Homo sapiens: one gene and its partners. The gene in region 1 interacts genetically with each later gene. Each region holds a gene or a part of one and is shown on either strand. Other genes may lie near its edges. The genes, in order: FARSB, EGFR and LEO1.

Evidence for each region.
Region 2: changes in FARSB (region 1) and EGFR together harm fitness more than expected from each alone (negative genetic interaction), as found in Homo sapiens cells (one large-scale study listed by BioGRID).
Region 3: changes in FARSB (region 1) and LEO1 together harm fitness more than expected from each alone (negative genetic interaction), as found in Homo sapiens cells (one large-scale study listed by BioGRID).

Annotation. Positions count from the first base shown.
Region 1 is NC_000002.12:222,645,969-222,649,626, forward strand, and holds part of FARSB (phenylalanine--tRNA ligase beta subunit), read right to left. Parts: intron 2,828-3,658; coding exon 2,772-2,827; intron 2,158-2,771; exon of another isoform or gene 1,873-2,157; intron 1,029-1,872; exon of another isoform or gene 833-1,028; intron 379-832; exon of another isoform or gene 1-378.
Region 2 is NC_000007.14:55,200,513-55,204,170, reverse strand, and holds part of EGFR (epidermal growth factor receptor isoform a precursor), read right to left. Parts: intron 2,984-3,658; coding exon 2,816-2,983; intron 2,437-2,815; coding exon 2,389-2,436; intron 1,655-2,388; coding exon 1,546-1,654; coding exon of another isoform or gene 1,406-1,545; exon of another isoform or gene 1,095-1,405; intron 1-1,094. UniProt on the Homo sapiens protein: Receptor tyrosine kinase binding ligands of the EGF family and activating several signaling cascades to convert extracellular cues into appropriate cellular responses.
Region 3 is NC_000015.10:51,965,187-51,968,844, forward strand, and holds part of LEO1 (RNA polymerase-associated protein LEO1), read right to left. Parts: intron 1,319-3,658; coding exon 563-1,318; intron 1-562. UniProt on the Homo sapiens protein: Component of the PAF1 complex (PAF1C) which has multiple functions during transcription by RNA polymerase II and is implicated in regulation of development and maintenance of embryonic stem cell pluripotency.

The DNA of each region.
Region 1 (3,658 bases):
AATAAGGCCAAAGTTCTCCTGTAAAATCATCATTAAAAGTACAGAGAAGAGATCTATCATTCAAATTATAAAAGGAAACCTCATTCATTTCACAGTCTAAAAAAATGCCAATCTTACTAGGTGTTACTTTTGGCAGCAGAATAATTTCCTTATGGCCCAATACAATATAATTATTCCGACTAGATTACCAAATTCTCCATAATCCATCCTGTACTAAAATTGGTTGACTCTTCCTCCTTGTGGGAGGAGAGTCACTACAGACACCAAGAATCCATTCAGGCATGTCTTTAACTTCTACTTCCCGGTACTGCCTGCCACAATTTTATCCCTTAGAACCCAGAACAGCTGGGAGCAGATAAAATCTTCTTGGGTTATGAGGTAAGTTTTGTGTTGTATTTCCATATCGCACAGTTTTTCTATCTTCTGAGACTATAAGTTTACGATGTGCTGCTTCAGGATCTAGAATTACATCTACTTGAAATCGCTTGATAATTTTGTTTTGGCCACAATATTGTGGAGACAGATGGTAACCATATTCTTTTAATTTGAATAAAAAAGGTTTAGGGAATTTTAAATTCTTATGTCTGTGATAGATATCCTTAACATCAGCCAGTAATTCCAGTTCTGACTTCACATATATGCTCTCTATCTTCTTTAGTAGATATTTTAATGAGGAGGTATAATCTGAAAATTTTGTTAGGCTTTCATTTAGTTGTGCTAAAATATCCATCTCGTCATCTTGTAATTGCCCAAAAACAGTCTCTTGCTCATTTTGCAGAAATAACCTAAGTTGCTCAAATTCAGACTTGACTTCTTCTGCCGTATGTTTTACCTTTTTCTTCAGTTCCAGTGATTTTCTGGTTTGTATAGTTATGACTTTTTCAATTAGTTCCACTCTCTCCTTCCACGGTGCATTGTATTGCTCCAGTTTTTTCCTGATAGGAGGCAGCCTTCTTTATGGGCCAAACACAGCGATGCTGGTGATCAGTGGACAAACTGCACCTTGGACATAAAAGCTCTAGGTCTTTCTGAGAGAAGAAAGTCAAAACCTGATTATGCTTCTTACACACATGCTTCTCTTCCTGCCTCTTCCTCTTGCTTCTTAGCTGGAGTTGCTTAGCAATTTCAGTCAAACTACCCAGCTGGGGATTGCTTATAAATTTCCTTTCTGGACAGCACAAGTGGCAAAAGGGGCAGGGGAAACTATCATCTAGATCCTTCCAGGACATAATGATGCAGGAGAGACAGAAGTTATGCCCACAGCTGATGGTCACTGGGTCTTTCAAGTAGTCCAGACAGATGGGACAGCTAGCCTCTGCTCGGAGGTCAGCCAGGGCTGTCACAAATTCTACGGAGCCTGGAACAAAGATGGTAGGTAAGGTAATTCTTTTATTTTAGCAAGGCCTAGCTCTCTAGAGCTCAAGACCCACTATGCAGTGGATTCCTCCCCAGACCTTGAAATCTGACCAGCTTTCAGTTTTACTGACTTGGCATGTTGATGGCAGCTTCTAGAAACTTGTTAAGCCCTCAGCTCCTTAGCTTCAGACTTCACAGCCTGCAGCCTATTGCATATTAGAACTTATTAGCTGGGCTGCTGCTCTTCCCACTAAATGAAATAAAGTCAAGTTTTCTTCAAGAAAGCAGCCTCAGGTCCAAGATAAGGACTCCTTCCTGTAATCCCAGCTACTCAGGAGGCTGAGGCAGGAGAATCGCCTGAACCCAAGAGGAGGAGGTTGTGGTGAGCCAAGATCGCGCTGTCGCACTCCAGCCTGGGCAACAGAGTGAAACTATATAAAGCACATTGGGCCAGGCATGGTGGCTCACACCTGTAATCTCAGCACTTTGGGAGGCCAAAGCAGTGGATCACTTGAGGTCAGCAGTTCGAGAACCAGCCTGGCCAACATGGTAAAACCTCGTCTCTCCTTGCATTATAATCACCTGGAGGGCTTGGTAAAAGGTTGCTTGGGCCACATCCCCAGTTTCTGGTTCAGTAGGGCTGGTTTTTTCCTAAGTTCCCAGATGATGCTGCTGGCCTGCGGACTGTACTTTGTGAACTTATGCTGGAGCAGATGGATCAGAAACCCCGGCCAGAGGATGCTCAGGACCCATCAAGCCCCCGCGAGGAAGGACTCAGACCCCCAACCCCACCAAATTAAAGTATGTCTTTAATAGATAATCATTATTAACAATATTAAAATGTATAGCCGACTTGATTTTTTTAAATATTGTAATCATTATACAATCAAAAGTCAAAGAAAATGCTTCCTCATTTTTATAAGCAAGTCCTTAAAAAATATTAGTTCATTTTACAAGACCAATGAATATAGTAATGCATTAGTACTGGTTGAAGAGGCACGGAGGAAGGTTATGGGGGCAGAGGAGCTGAAGGAGGAGGCGCTGGAAGTGAAGGAGGCAGGGTAACTCTGGTTGAAGCAACATTTCTACTGCTTCTTGGTCCCTTTCTGTGATTAATTTGCCAAAGGAGGGAGCTTACTTTCATACTGGGGTTATCTAACACATTCTATCCATTTCCACAGCATGAGCCTGGTAACAAGGTGATTGTAGATGGAATAAGGCATGAACTCCTTTTGAGATTTTAGTCAAGGCAACAGACAGACATGGAGCTTAGCCCTCTGAACACAGAAATCATGGCCCACAAACATTATCACCTTAGTCTAACTATAAGGTAACAAAGATGAAATACAGTATAACCCTGAAAAATAAGCTTATGCACACAATCTTTGAAAAATAGACAAATATCCAATACATACAATTTCATCAAGCTCCAGACCAAATTCAAAACATAGTTCATCAAATTCTTCGTCAGCTAGGAAAATAAAAAAGGAGATGGTTAATTTCACTCTGTTCAGTATAAGTGAAAACTACATACAAACTGCATTTTCTTATTACTAATTGCCTTACACCAATCATACTACTAAATATCAGGCATCACATATTATCATTTAAAAACAAACAGGCCAGGCATGGTGGCTCATGCCTGTAATCCCAGCACTTTGGGAGGCCAATGTGTGTGGATCATCTGAGGTCAGGAGTTTGAAACCAGCCTGGCCAACACGGTGAAACCCTGTCTCTACTAAAAATACAAAATTAGCCAGGCATGGTGGCGCATGCCTGTAATCCCAGCTACTTGGGAGGCTGAGGCAGGAGAATTGCTTGAACCTGGGAGGCAGAGGTTGCAGTGAGCCGAGATCATGACATTGCACTCCAGCCTGGCTGACAAGAGCGAGACTCCGTCTCAAAAAATTAAAAAAAAAAAAAAAAAAAAAAAAAGCTGGGCCAAAAAAATTTAAGATAAAAAAAAGAAAAAACTATTAAAGGCTTGATTAATCTACACTAATATCAACTGTAGTTTAGGTTACCTGCACTGGGAAGTTTGCATGTACACAGAAGAAAAACACCTGTTCACCTGTTAAGTAGAGATCAGATATAAAGTAGGCTCCAAATCACAGATCTCACACAACAGAATGTCACATAAGTCCTATCAGGTAAAATGGTCTGAGGTGGCCTGACACTTTTGGCTTTGAAGCCAAGTCAATCAGAGTTTGAATTCTATCCCACTTATTAGATCTGAGAGTTTGGCACCTTATGTAAACTTTCTTGGTATCTTGTGTCAACATTACAGCTGCCTCATCTATAA
Region 2 (3,658 bases), on another chromosome or scaffold:
GTATGTGTGTGTGTAGTTGGTGTGTGTAGTTGGTGTGTAAAGAGGTATATCATCTGCCTTAACTTGCATTTTTCTAATAGCTTATAATATTGATAATCTGTTTATATTATATTAGATAGCCAATAAACTATATATTAGATATTACACTAACATATATATAACTTACATATGTTATATATCTAAATCTTTATATACATATAACATATGTATAAAGATTTCTACATATTTTTATATATAAAGATTTTGATATATATGACATAGATATTAGATAGCTAATAAACTACATATTAGATATATAGATATTAGATATTACATCAACATATATATAACATATGTTTTATATATATCTAAATCTTTATACATGTGTGTGTGGGGTGTGGGTGTGTATATGCACATACATATGTGTATGTGGTGTGTTAATGTGTGTTTCTGTGGTGTGTGTGGTGTGTCTACGTGTGTGTATGTGTGGTGCGTGTATGTGTGGTGTGTGTGGTGTGTGTATGTGTGTGTGTGGTGTGTGGTGTGTGTGTGTATGTGTGGTGTAGTGTGTATATGTTTGTATGTGTGTGCGGTTTTTGTGGTGTGTGTGTGGCGTATGTGTGTGTGGTGTGTGTATGTGTGGTGTGTGTGGTGTATGTGTACGTGTGTATGTAATGGTGTGTGTAGTGTATATGTGTCTGTGTGTATGTATGTGTGGTGTGTGTGTATGTGTGCATACATGTCTGTAGTGTGTGTACGTGTCTGTGTTGTGTGTTGTGTGTACGTGTGTGTGGTGTGTCTGTATGTATGTGTGGTGTGTATGTATGCATGGTGTATGTGTGTATATATGTGTGTATACGTGTGTGTATGTGGTGTGTGTGGTGTGTATATGTGTATGTGTGTGGGGTTTTTGTGGTGTATGTGTGGTGTGTGTATGTGTGTATACATGTATGTGTGTGTGGTGTGTATGTATTTGAGGTGTGTGTGTATATGTGTGTGCATGTGTATGTGTCTGTGTATGGTATGTGTGTGGTGTCTGTGTATGTGTGTGGTGTGTGTATATGTGTGTATGTGTATGTGTGTGTATATGTGTGTGTGTTAGCAGGTTATGAGTATCTGGATAAAGCTTAAAATTTATTAATATTAACTAATATTTAATTAGTTAAATATACGTTTCACAGGTCAAGATAGAGCCAGCAGAGAGAACAGGGATCAAATCTGTCACAAACACACACATACACACACACACATACACAGATGTACACACATCATGAACACTCACACACACAGATGTGTATGTCCGTGATTTGCTTCATAAGCTAGAAATTTTGCAGATTCATTCTTACAACAGAGGTACAGCAAACAACCAGACACAACAAAGAGCTTGTGCAGGCTCGGTCATGTGTTTATCTGCTCCTTACGCCCTTCACTGTGTCTGCAAATCTGCCACTGTTTCCCCCTCTGGAGATGCTGGAGGGAGCACCTGGCTTGGACACTGGAGACTGGCTGCTGCTGAGTGGGTCGAGGAGGTTGAGGAGCAGGACTGTTTCCAGACAAGCCACTCACCAGGCACTGGGAGGAAGGTGTCGTCTATGCTGTCCTCAGTCAAGGCGCCTGTGGGGTCTGAGCTGTATCGCTGCAAGAAGCTGTCTTCCTTGATGGGACAGCTTTGCAGCTGCAGGAGGAAATGAGGGAAGGTTACTCCGGTCAGGGCTGCCCCAACTTCAGTGTTTGCAAAAATCACCCGAGATCTCCTTGAGATGCTGGTTCTGATTAGTAGGTTGGGCAGGCCTGAGAGTCTGCACCCTGGTGGGTGCTGGTGCTACTGGGCCACAGGCTGCAGGGTGGGCAGCAGGGCTGTGCTGGGTGCTGTACAGCAGAACTTTCCGCAGTGAGGGAGGTGTGCTATGAGCGGTGCTCTTCAATACGGTCACCACTAGCCACGTGTGGCTACTGGACACTTCACATGTGTGAGAAACTGAATTTTATATTTTATTTCATTTTAACTCATTAACATTTAAGTTGAAGTAGCCACATGTGGCTAGTGGTTTCTGCATGGCACAGTGCGGTCTAGACCACGGCCTCACACTTCAACAGACATCAGCATCACCTGGAAAGTGGCTCAAACATAGACTACTGGGTGCCACCCCCAGAGGTCCTGATTTGGTCAAACTGGGGCAGTGGCCTGAAAAATGGCGTTTCTAACAAGGCCAGGCGATGCTACTACTGGTCCAGGAGTCACGCTTTGAACGGCACTGTGAGGCGTGACAGCCGTGCAGGGAAAAACCCACACAGGAAGAAAACTCAAGATTATCTGGGTTAAAATTATTTAGGTTAAGGCATTTTCCATGTAAAATAGAGCCATAGTGGAGAGCTGTAAATTCTGGCTTATAAGGTGTTCATACATACCCCATTTCTATCAATGCAAGCCACGGTGGAATTGTTGCTGGTTGCACTCTGAAAAAGAAACAGAGAAGTTGCCCATGGAATGCTTGTACCACATCTCATCCACTTTTCCTGAATGCAGGTGGTGTGCCTCATGGAGGGTATATTGTGAAGGTGTTTAATTTTTGTCTTAATCGTTAGTTTTAGAGCAACTAGGTTTAGTTTTGATTTAATTACATTCCATAGTGGACCTAAAAGGCTTACAATCAAGTTGTTGCAATGCAACAAAATAATTAATACACTTAATTTATTTTGATTTTGATTTTACCATTTGGTTAAAATTGACTTCATATCCATGTGAGTTTCACTAGATGGTTATTTTCCCTAAAATTCAATTTGTTCAAATGAGTAGACACAGCTTGAGAGAGAGAGAGAGACAGAGATTTCATACCAGAGAGCTCAGGAGGGGAGTCCGTGACGTGGAGGGGCTGCTGAAGAAGCCCTGCTGTGGGATGAGGTACTCGTCGGCATCCACCACGTCGTCCATGTCTTCTTCATCCATCAGGGCACGGTAGAAGTTGGAGTCTGTAGGACTTGGCAAATGCATTCTTTCATCCCCCTGGTGCAGAGATTTTGAGGCTATTAGAATGGCCCGTAGAGATGCTATTCCACTTCTTGGCTATAGGAGCAGGGGTCTATTGCCAGCAGGTGCCTGTGTGTTTGCCAATTTTGTTATAATGAAATCCCCCTTGGTTCTCTAAATTATAGCTGCCTCCCCTCATGACATGATGTGGGTGCCTTAAAATAAAACATGAACCATCCTTTGATGCTTGAAAGCCCCTACATGAGATTCAAATAGCTTCTGAGGAAACAGAAAGGGAAGAAGCTGCAGCATTCATCGAGTGTGCACCTTGCTGTGAGGTGTTAGGGAGCGTATTTTGCAACATATTTTATTGAATCTTTGAGACAATCCTGTGAGCTTGGTTTTGGTATTCCTGTGTTATGGAAGGAGATAGGTGGATCGGCTGCCTGGGTGATGCGAAGAAGTGGAGAGTCAGGGGTGTGAAGCCACGTCTGCCTGACACCAAAGCCCAATAGACCATGCTTCTCTCTTAGACCCAGCTGAGGCTTTGGCTAGCCGGACAGTGAGGACGAGCACCAGAGGAGAGTTCAGACGGGGAGGGGGAGATGGAGTTGGGTGGGCCCCACTCACGGATGCTGCTTAGTTCACGATGTGGCCTGCGCCTTACTGAGGCTTGCTCTAATGCGCTGGAGGGTTTAATAATGCGATCTG
Region 3 (3,658 bases), on another chromosome or scaffold:
ATCCTCTTGAAACAATTTTGCAATTCAATTTTATACATTAATATCTTGTAAATTTGACTAGTTTGAGTAAACTCCTTAGAGCTTGACCATCTCTGGATGATCAAATTTTGGATCTCAAAAAGCTGAGCTGCAGCAATGGTGCCCACATCTCAGTACAGCTGCTCTGTGGGGACACTTCAATGGTATGGTTTTTTTCCCCAGGCTAATCTATTCTCTCACATGAGGCATGCTCTTCAGTTATCCACAGAAATGGAATCAACTTAACTCATTATCAGCTCTTCTTACACCATATCCCTCCCTCTAAGACTCAATTTTAAGTCCTCTTTAAATTGTTTTCCCCCAGACCTATCCATTAACAAATGGAAGGGAAAGGAGTAAGAAAGAATAAGTGGATTAGAAAGATTTAAAAGAAGCAAAATGTATTCTAGAGTTAGAAAAGTTTGAAAGGGAGGGGACAGAAGAGAAAAAACAGGGTAATAAAGATGGGAATAAAGACTAAATGGGTCCCTGCTGTATCTGAATGCTTCTTTCTGAGCCATTCTGGTTCTCATAAATGTATTACCTGATTTATGATCCTGTTCCTCTTCATCATCTGAATGCCTGTGTTCTTCATCTGAGGCCTGTGGCCTTTCATCATCAGAATTTTGCATTTTCTCTTCATCAGACAGCTGTGGTTGTTCTTCATCATCAGAATTCTGTTTCTCATCATCATTATCAGAAGCTACCGGCCGTTCATCATCAGAATTAGCCTTTTCCTCCTCAGATAGCTGTTGTCTCTCATCATCGGAAAGCTGAGGCCTCTCCTCATCATCTGTGTTCTGCATTTTCTCATCATCGTCAGAATTCTGCAGCTTATCTTCATCAGATCCTTGTGCCCTCTCCTCATCATCAGAATTTTGTATCTTTTCATCATCTGACTGGTCACTTTTATCTTCTCTGCCCCATTTTTCATCATCTGAATGTGCTTTTTCAGAACCTTCTGCTTCTGAATGATGGCTCCCTCCATCCGATCTATGACCTTCGTCTTCATCATCATTAGGGGCTTCTGATCCACTGTGCTGATCTACATCTGAGGGGTCATTGTCCTCATGGTCAGAACGCTCAGAAGCTTCTGATCTATTGTCTGATCTTTCAGAGTGATTATCACTACCACTATGATGTGAAGCTCCCTCGTCCTCACTGTCATCTCCAAACAGTTCCTTATTACTTGGTTGTCCTGAATCACCTCTTTCATCCTGATCACTTTCACTTCCAGAGGCATTACTGCCAGAGGCAGCATTCTCTTGATCAGAATCTGAGTCAGATCCAGAATCAGAATCTATGGGGTCATATAAACATAGGATAACATAAGCAAAAAAAGGCAGAGTAAGGCAGTCCCAAAGTCCATCCCAACATAAAAGCAATGAAGAAACTGGCAAAAACTGTTAGAATTAACATTCTAAGGCCGGGTGCAGTGGCTCACGCCTGTAATCCCAGCACTTTGGGAAGCCGAGGCAGGCAGATCACCTGAGGTCAGGAGTTCGAGACCAGCCTGACAAACATAGCGAAACCCTGTCTCTACTAAAAATACAAAATTTAGCCAGGCATGGTTGCACATGCCTGTAATCCCAGCTACTCAGGAGGCTGAGACAGGAGAATCACTTGAACCCGGGAGGCAGAAGTTGCAGTGAGCGGAGATCAAGCCACTGCACTCCAGCCTGGGCGACAGAGTGAGACTTTGTCTCAAAGAAAAAAAAGAAAAAGAAAAAGAAAAATATATTTACTAAAATCAAAGAGTCACTAGAGGGGCTCAACCAAAGATTTGAGCAGGAAAAAGAAAGAATCAGTAAACTTGAAGATACCTCAGTTCGACTGTCCAATCTGAGAAACAGAAAGAAAAAAGAATAAAGAGAAAGGAACGGAGTCTAGAAGATTTATGGGACACCTTAAGTTATACCAATGTATGCATAATGGAGTCTCAGAAGAAGAGAAATGAGCAGAAAAAGATTCTTAAATAATAGCTGAGGCCAGGCATGGTGGTTCACACCTGTAATCCCAGCACTTTGGGAGGCCAAGGCGGGCAGATCACTTGAGGTCAGGAGTTCGAGACCAGGCTGGCCAACATGGCAAAACCCCATCTCTACTAAAAATACAAAAGTTAGCCAGGTATGGTGGCGCAAGCCTGTAATCCCAGCTACTTGAGAGGCTGAAACAGGAAAATCGCTTGGATCCAGGAGGTGGAGGTTGCAGTGAGCCGAGACCACACCATTGCACTCTAGCCTGAGTGACAAAGCGAGACTCTGTCTCAAAAGAATAAATAAATGATAGCTGAAGAACTCCCAAATTTATGAAAAATATAGATCTACACATCCAACAAGTTCAACAAATGACAAGTAGGATAAACTTACAGAGGTTTACACCTAGAAACATTGTTATCAGACTGTCAAAGACAAAGAAACAATTCCAAAAGCGGGCAAAAGAGAAGCAGTTCATCCCATATGAGGAACGCTCAATAAGAGTAACAGCTGATTTTTCATCAGAAACCAAGGAATCCCAGAGCCATCCATAAGAGGACACATTCAAAGTGCTAAAAAGAAAGACTGTCAACCAAGAATTTTATATTCAGTAAAATTATGCTTCAAAAACTAAGACGATATGGAAGACAAAAGAAAACATAAATTGGACTTCCACAAAATGAAAAACTTTTGTGCAGCAAAGGACGTTATTAAGAAAGTAGGCCCGGCGCAGTGGCTCATGCCTGTAATCCCAACACTTTGGGAAGCCAAGGTGGCTGGATCACCTGAGGTCAGGAGTTTGAGATCAGCCTGGCCAACATGGTGAAACCCCATCTCTACTAAAAATACAAAAATTAGCCAGGCATGGTGGCTTACGCCTGTGAGCCCACTACTTGGGAGGCTGAGGCAGGACAATCGCTTGAACCCAGGAGATGGAGGTTGCAGTGAGCCAAGATCATAGCACTGCACTCCAGCCTGGGCAACAGACCAAGACTCCATCTCAAATAAATAAATAAATACATAATATTGCTAAGTTAAGTTCAAAACTGGTTAATGTCTTAGAGGACAATAAAATCTTTTGGCTGGGTGCGGTGGCTCATGCCTGTAATCTCAGCACTCTAGGAGCCCAAGGTGGGAAGATCACCTGAGGTCAGGAGTTCCAGACCAGCCTGACCAACATGGTGAAACCCTGTCTACTAAAAATACAAAAATTAGCTGGGCATGGGGGCACACGCCTGTAATCCCAGCTACTGGGAATAATGAGGCATAAGAATCCCTTAAACCTAGGAAGCGGAGGTTGCAGTGAGCCGAGATCGTGCCACTGCATGAAAGGGGAGACTCTGTCTCCAAAAAAAAAAAGTAAGTGAAGGCCAGGCGCAGTGGCTCACGCCTGTAATCCCAGCACTTTGGGAGGCTGAGGTGGGTGGATCACGAGGTCAGGAGTTTGAGAACAGCCTGGCCAATATGGTGAAACCCCATCTCTACTAAAAATACAAAAATTAGCCAGGCGTGGTGGTGCATGCCTGTAGTCCCAGCTACTTGGGAGGCTGAAGCAGAATAATCACTTGAACCCAGAAGGCGGAGGTTGCTGTAAGCCGAGATTGCGCCACTGCACTCCAGCCTGGGCGACAGAGCAAGACTCCGTCTCAAAAAAAAAAAGGAAA